2 linked regions of the Homo sapiens genome follow. The protein of the gene in region 2 interacts with the protein of the main gene of each other region in a pairwise test. Each region holds a gene or a part of one and is shown on either strand. Other genes may lie near its edges.

Region 1 (3,500 bases), on a different chromosome or scaffold from region 2:
CCCACCCCCAGCTGGAGCAAAGGCCAGGACAAGGGGCAATGGCAAGGGTGAGAGCTGTAGACAGGGCAAAGAGGTGGTCTATTAGTACAAGAGAAACCCACTCTCTGGGATATTTTCTTTTTCTTTGAGGTAAGTTATTTGAGTCCTTTGTAAGGGACGAAGGACTTGGTGGAATCTGGATGGAAGGGTTTCATTGCACCCCAAAAATGATCTTATATGCTATACAGGTAAACCCTGACTTTCTGTATGGCCTAAATAAAAATCATTAATATTTGCAATATATATAATTTCAAACATATGCAAAATTAAAAGAATAGTATAGCCTCTGTACCTCCCCCACATACTACTCACTCAGCTTCAATCATTAATAATTCATGGCCAATTTTGTCTCATCTCTGCTGGCTCCCTCCCTCCCTACTACTAGATGATTTTGAAGCAATTCCAAGACATTATCTACTACAGGTTCTTTCTCTCCACTCCAGCTCTACCCTCTTCATCTTCGTCTCAACCAAGCTTGCTATTGGGTGGCGGAAAGAGACATGTTTCCAAGGGAATGTAACCACCAGAGGTGGCAATACGAGCCACATAACTGTGTGGCTGTAGTGACCTGGAAAGGTCTTATGGAGCAGGTAGAGTTTGAGCAGAGTTTGAAGCACAGGAAAATCCTGATGGACAGGAATGACTAGACGGGAAGGACTTCCCAGGTAGAGGACAGCAGGTACAGAGGGACAGGGTGAGTACTTTAGGCAGTAGTGGAGGTGCTGCAAGTCTCTCCAATCTCTGCTCTGCGCTGGATGGATGAGGGTGTTTTTCTAACCCAATGAAGCATTTTTATGAGTGCTGGCATAGTTGAAACAATGTTCTTGAAGGGCAAAGAAGCTTTGATAGACAGACCCTTTGAAGCACCAAAGGAGAAAAGGAATGGCTTAGACATTAACTTCTGCAGCACAGCTTGCGTACCTCTACTTTTTTGCAGCATATAGTTTTTAGCACAATGCTGGGCACTCAGTGGACACTCAAATGCTTAATTATTTATAGCAACCTAGTTCTCCCTGCCTTCAAGAACTTTAAATCTACTAGAAGTTCAGGTGCTAGTTTGAGAACCACCTATATGGGGCAGTCTGTGCTGGGATCTAATGAACAGGAGAGACTTGTTTATGAAAACACTTTGAATGAGATACAGATTTGGTCAAGGATCATGTATGTTACTCTTACTATTTTGGTACTGGCATTATACCCCTGGCTTGGTTTCTTAAGGATGTCATCCACTCTTTGGTTCCCTTTTTTCCATCATGGACAGTAGAGAGAGGAAAGGGTAACAGTAGGAATTTATTCAAAATAGAGAGGAACTCATTTGTGAGTGGCCTCTCCATTCTCTCTTTGGTTTACCTTCTTCTCATTCGCTGGTTAGGGATTCTTGGATTCTTTATCCTTGGGCAAGGAACAACTGTCTCTTGGTGCTTATCTCCATGGCACTTCCCAGAACTAACCTGGTGGTCCTCTTGGCAGATTTGTTCCTTTGTCTGGGGAGCGAAGAAGCACTGGATTGATTACCAGTATGTCCCGTATGCCAACAAGGGGAAAGAGTGGGTTGGCTATGACAATGCCATCAGCTTCAGTTACAAGGTGAGACCCTGGCTCTTTCATGCTCCAGCACATGGTTTCCTACCGGTTTCTATGGGGTCCTTATTTGTACAATGCATGTATGTGTATTGGGTGGAGAGTGAAAGGTGAGGATGATTAGACCAGGGGTTTCAGGCATGCCTACATTTTAGTTCTAACTGGGGCTTTATAATCCCATCTGTTCCAAGTCTCTATTCTGAAGAGAAAGAATCTAGGTTCTGAGGGAATAAATAGTTCCCTCAGTTCTTACAGCTTTTCGATGATCTTTTTGGTCTCTTCCTTTCCATTTGGACCAGCTAATTTCATAACAGATAAATACCAACACAAAGTAGATCATGGTAAGTGCTCTGTAAATATTACTGACATGTAGCAGAAATGAGGAAGTCTGGGAGGGCTTCCTGAGGGAGGTGAGCAGGAGTAGGAGAAGATTATGACATTGGGGAAAGGCTCAGTGGTGTAGAAAGCTTATAGCAGGTTCAAAGAAGAATTTGGGTGAAGCAGAGGCTTTTTATAAAGGGACTTGAATGCTGGTAAAGGTGTTCAGTCTTCATCCTGTGGGCATTTTAAGGCAAAAACAGGTTTCTACAGGTGGATGACCTTTAATTTTCAAACTTTTAGAGCCAAACTATGACCACCACCCTCCCTTCATGTAAGTGGTATTTTATGAAGTTGAATCTGGCAGGTTTTTATAGTGAACTAAAAGAGAACTGACATGCTCCAGTAGTTCCTAAACCTGCCTCTGTTTTGGAATCACCTGAGAGACTGGATACATGTAGAAATCATGGTTCCACTCCTCAATATTCAGTAGGTCTTAGAAAAACTTTGGAAACTATTTTAGAATGCCTCCATATATGATCCTTCCAAATGCTAAGTTGGCATTTTGGGAGCTCTGGGCGTGGACACAGAGGTGTCCAAGCATGAGATAATGAGGGTCTGGACTAGGGTAGTTGGAAGGAGCAGCAGTTTAAAGGTGAGAAATTGTCGGAATGTGGCAACTGCTTGGATATTGAGACTTAAATAGAGAGAATTCACAGTTCTCCTGTTAACGGTGATGCAGAAATGGCAGGTGTCGGCTGTTTTTTGGGGGAAGTTTGTGTGGGAAGCACCAGAGAGGAAGGCACTCATGAAGATTCACTGCGTAGCTCCTCTGTGCATTAACACTGGGTGAGGCCTGCTGGGGCGGAGAGAGATAAAAAAGCATGGCTTCTCCCCTCTGGGATCTTGCTCTGTGGTTTGGGAATGGGAAGACACAAACAGGAAAGATTAATGACTCAATGGATTTACCCAATTGGATGGAGTTAAGTCTATGACCCATAGGACATCAGAGAGGGGATTGATCCCTTGTGTTGGGTGAGGCCCTGGGATGAGCAGCAGAGGGTGGTCTTGCTTTGAGGTGCAGTTACTGTAACTTGCAGAACTAGGTGAGGAGACATGAAGCCAGGTTGGGGATGGTTAAGGGATTTTGACATAGAATATCAGAGCTAAAAGAGACCTTGGGGATTATTGTTGGGAGATAATTATACCCTGGATTTCTCAGAGTTCCTGCACAGTTTGAGGATTCTGGGCAAAGGAAGCAGACAAGCTTTACTAAAAATAGAGAGCTGCTTTCCTCTTTCCCCCAGAGCCATTTGTTTACCTTCAATGATTGTGAAAGTCCCCTTCCCAGGGAGGACTTGTTTACATTCCAGGTTCTCTCCTCTCTCTGGAAGGGAGGAGGGCCACATATGTCAACCATTCTATATAAGCTCTGAGTCTCATAATTTCAGAGTTCTTCTCTGTAGCGCAGACCCCACTGCATATGCAGGTGAATTGAACATCTGACCTTCATCACATTGTCCTTGGGACATGGAAACTGACTCAAGGTGCTATTCTGGCTA
Region 2 (3,500 bases):
CCCCATCATCTGCGCCTGTTGACATTTGCTCCATCCTTGAGCTCCATAGCCCCGCCGCCACCTGCTACTGACGCGTGTCCCGCCTCCAAGCCCATGGCCCTGCCTTCCTCAGTCCACCTGTCACCCCGCTCACCACCAGCTGTTGATGTTTGCTCCGCCCTTGAGCCCCATGACTACGTCCACTGCCTGCTGTTCAGATTTGCTCAGCCCTTGAGCCCCATGGCCCCTCCCACTGCTCCGCTCCCCCCAGTCCCGCCCTCATTCACTGGGCTCTCTATTCCCCTCCCTCCCTGGCCTGGCAGAGCTGGACCTGCAGCGGACGCTGAGTTTGCAGGCGCCACCTGTGAAGGAGGGGCCACTCTTCATCCACAGGACCAAGGGCAAGGGCCCCCTCATGTCCTCCTCCTTCAAGAAGCTCTACTTCTCCCTCACTACCGAGGCCCTCAGCTTCGCGAAGACGCCCAGCTCCAAGGTGGGTAAGGAGGGAGGCCGGCAAGTGGGGCTCTGAGAGGCCGGCAAGTGGGGCACCTGTCCCCTTCCTTGGAGCCCACTTGAGGTACCCCCGGGGTCAGAGAAGAAAGCCAGGTGTGTGGCATCTGTACTGCTTGTCAGAACCTAGGAGGGCCGGGCACGGTGGCTCACGCCTGTAATCCCAGGACTTTGGGAGGCCAAGGCGGGTGGATCACTTGAGGTTAGGAGTTTGAGACCAGCCTGGCCAACATGGAGAAACCCCGTCTCTACTAAAAATACAAAAAATCAGCCGGGTGTGGTGGTGGGTGCCTGTAGTCCCAGCTACTCGGGAGGCTGAGGCACGGGAATCGCTTGAACCTGGGAGGCAGAAGTTGCAGTGAGCCGAGATCGTGCCACTGCACTCCAACCTGGGCAACAGAGCAAGACTCCATCTCAAAAAAAAAAAAAATGAATATGGAGGAAGTTGATCCGACCTTACCAGGTTGTTGAGGATTAAATGAGATGATCTCCCTAAGGGTCCTGACCCAGGGCCTGGCAGGTAGTACTATTTAGGCAAATGATATTATTAAAGATAGTATATCACCTGGGCTGCTAGATGAGTAGGAGGCTAGGGCAAACAGGGGAGGCTTCCTGGAAGAGGCAGGAATATAGAAGCACGGAATCTTGGCGTGGGAAGGGATCTCAAAGATCACCTTGTACAGCCCTCTCTGAGTCATGGGTCACCTCTCCTGCAAGCTCTCTTCTCCCAGGAAGGGCTGAGGACATACTTCCTCCATGGACCTGGTGACTGCTTGCTGTACACCTGCCCCCAGTCATGCAGGCTATGGGGATGATCTTCCAGGAGTACCCAGCCTAGCCCTGGGCAGGTGAGAGCGGGCTAGGAGTAGGTGAAGGAGCTCATCACCCACCCTGTTCTCAACCAGCTCAGGGGTCCCACCAGATGAGGGGCCCGCCCCTTCCGACCAAAGACCCCTCAGATGATGATAATTATTTTTTGAGACAGGGTCTTGCTCTGTCACCCAGGCTGTAGTGCAGTGGTGCGATCATAGCTGACCGCAGCCTCAAACTCCTGGGCTCAAGCAATCTTCCTACCTCAGCCTCCCGAGTAGCTGGGACTACAGGCACGTGCCACCAAGCCCAGCTAATTTTCTTTAACTTTTTTTTTTGCGGAGATGGGGTCTTGCTATGCTGCCCAGGCTGTTCTCAAACTCCTGGCCTCAGGCAATCCTCCTGCCCCAGCCTCCCAAAGCACTCAGATGATTATTATACATCTTCCTTGCCAGGGTTGAAAGATTTGACTACATGGGCATTATTTAATTCTGGTCCCATTTTTTTTTTTTTTTTTGAGATGGAGTTTCGCTTTTGTTGCCCAGGCCAGAGTGCAATGGTGCGATCTTGGCTCACCGCAACCTCCGCCTCCCGGGTTCAAGCGATTCTCCTGCCTCAGCCTCCCAAGTAGCTGGGATTACAGGCATGCGCCACCATGCCCGGCTAATTTTGTATTTTTAGTAGACACAGAGTTTCTCCATGTTTGTCAGGCTGGTCTCGAACTCCCAACCTCAGGTGATCCGCCTTCCTCGGCCTCCCAAAATGCTGGGATTACATGTGTGAGCCACTGCGCCCGGTCAGGATATGACTATTAGAGCCTGGGACTACAAAAGCAAGTTGGAAAATTAATAAATGCAAAGTCACAAAGCCTTGGCCACGGCCGGATTGACTTTGTAGCCCAGGGAATGCTGGCTGTCCCGACACTACCCCAAAGCTCACACCTCCGAGGCCTTCTGGGAGTGCCCCCCAGAGAGGCCAGGTCCTCCTCTCCCAGTTGCTGGGCACTTGGTCACCATCAGTCTGTGCTCTGCCCTGGCTGAGGTCACTCTAGGTCTCCCATGCCTACCCCTGGTGCTGCAGAAGGGGAGACTGAGGCCCAGAGATGGGGAATGGAATGCCCCTGGCTAGGTCCCTGAGCCTCCTCCTCCCTGCCTGCCCCAGAAAAGCGCCCTCATCAAGTTAGCCAACATCCGGGCAGCGGAAAAGGTTGAGGAAAAGAGCTTTGGCGGCTCGCACGTCATGCAGGTCATCTACACGGACGACGCCGGCAGGCCCCAGACTGCCTACCTGCAGTGCAAGGTGCGGGGAGGGGAGCGGGTGCTGTGGGAGTGGCCTGAACACTGTGGGAGTGGCTTGGGTGCTGTGGGAGAGGCCTGGGTACTGTGGGAGTGGCATGAGTCCTGTGGGAGTGGCCTGGGTATTGTGGGAGAGGCCTGAGCTCTATGGGAGTGGCCTGGGTGCTGTGGGAGTGCCCTGGATGCTATGGGAATGCCCTGGGTGCTGTGGGAATGGCCTGGGTGCTATGGGAGTGGCCTGAGCTCTGTGGGAGTGGCCTGGGTGCTGTGGGAGGGGCCTGAGTGGACTGGATGAGAAAAGAGTTGATTGAGCTTCTCGCCCCGCTACCAGCTACATCAGGCACCGCAGGGTGTGTCTAATCTGGGAGGTGTCAGGGACAGGTGTGTGTGTGTTGTCCAGGGGCCTGAGCCCCCAGGAGGCCATGGCCCATGTCTTTCCCTGGGCATCCATGTGTAGGTCTGTGTGTGGGCCAGTGCACAGACAGGTGCATCCCCGTGATGTGAAATTTGCACGTTGCACCCGTTTGTTGGAAACTATTTCCAGATAACTGAGATGGGGGCCAGGCACGCTGGTTCACACGGATAATCCCAGCATTCTAGCCAGGGCAACAGAGCAAGACCCTTTCTCTAAAACAGAAAGTCTGAGCTGGCACCTGTGTGGTTCTGTGTCTGTATCAATGCCTAATAATCAAACATTATGCTGTGTGTGGCTCTGGGTGCATGTTCTCAAGTAACCTTCTCATCTGTTCCTTCATTAACTCATTCATTCATTTATTTAAAAAATACTTACTGAGCACCTCCTAGGTTCCAGGCATGATTCTAGGTGAGGGGATACAGTGGCAGATGAGGCAGAGTCCTGCCCTCATGGAGCTGATATCCCTGGGAGAAGATGGGCCAATAAATACA

Evidence for each region. Proteins that work in one complex are often made in the same cells at the same time.
Region 1: the proteins of RASA4 (region 2) and OVGP1 interact in a two-hybrid assay, tested with the Homo sapiens proteins (one large-scale study listed by IntAct).

Annotation. Positions count from the first base shown.
Region 1 is NC_000001.11:111,417,736-111,421,235, reverse strand, and holds part of OVGP1 (oviduct-specific glycoprotein precursor), read left to right. Parts: intron 1-1,507; exon of another isoform or gene 1,508-1,509; coding exon 1,510-1,626; exon of another isoform or gene 1,627-3,500. UniProt on the Homo sapiens protein: Binds to oocyte zona pellucida in vivo. May play a role in the fertilization process and/or early embryonic development.
Region 2 is NC_000007.14:102,589,257-102,592,756, reverse strand, and holds part of RASA4 (ras GTPase-activating protein 4), read left to right. Parts: intron 1-302; coding exon 303-472; intron 473-2,460; coding exon 2,461-2,598; intron 2,599-3,500. UniProt on the Homo sapiens protein: Ca(2+)-dependent Ras GTPase-activating protein, that switches off the Ras-MAPK pathway following a stimulus that elevates intracellular calcium. Functions as an adaptor for Cdc42 and Rac1 during FcR-mediated phagocytosis.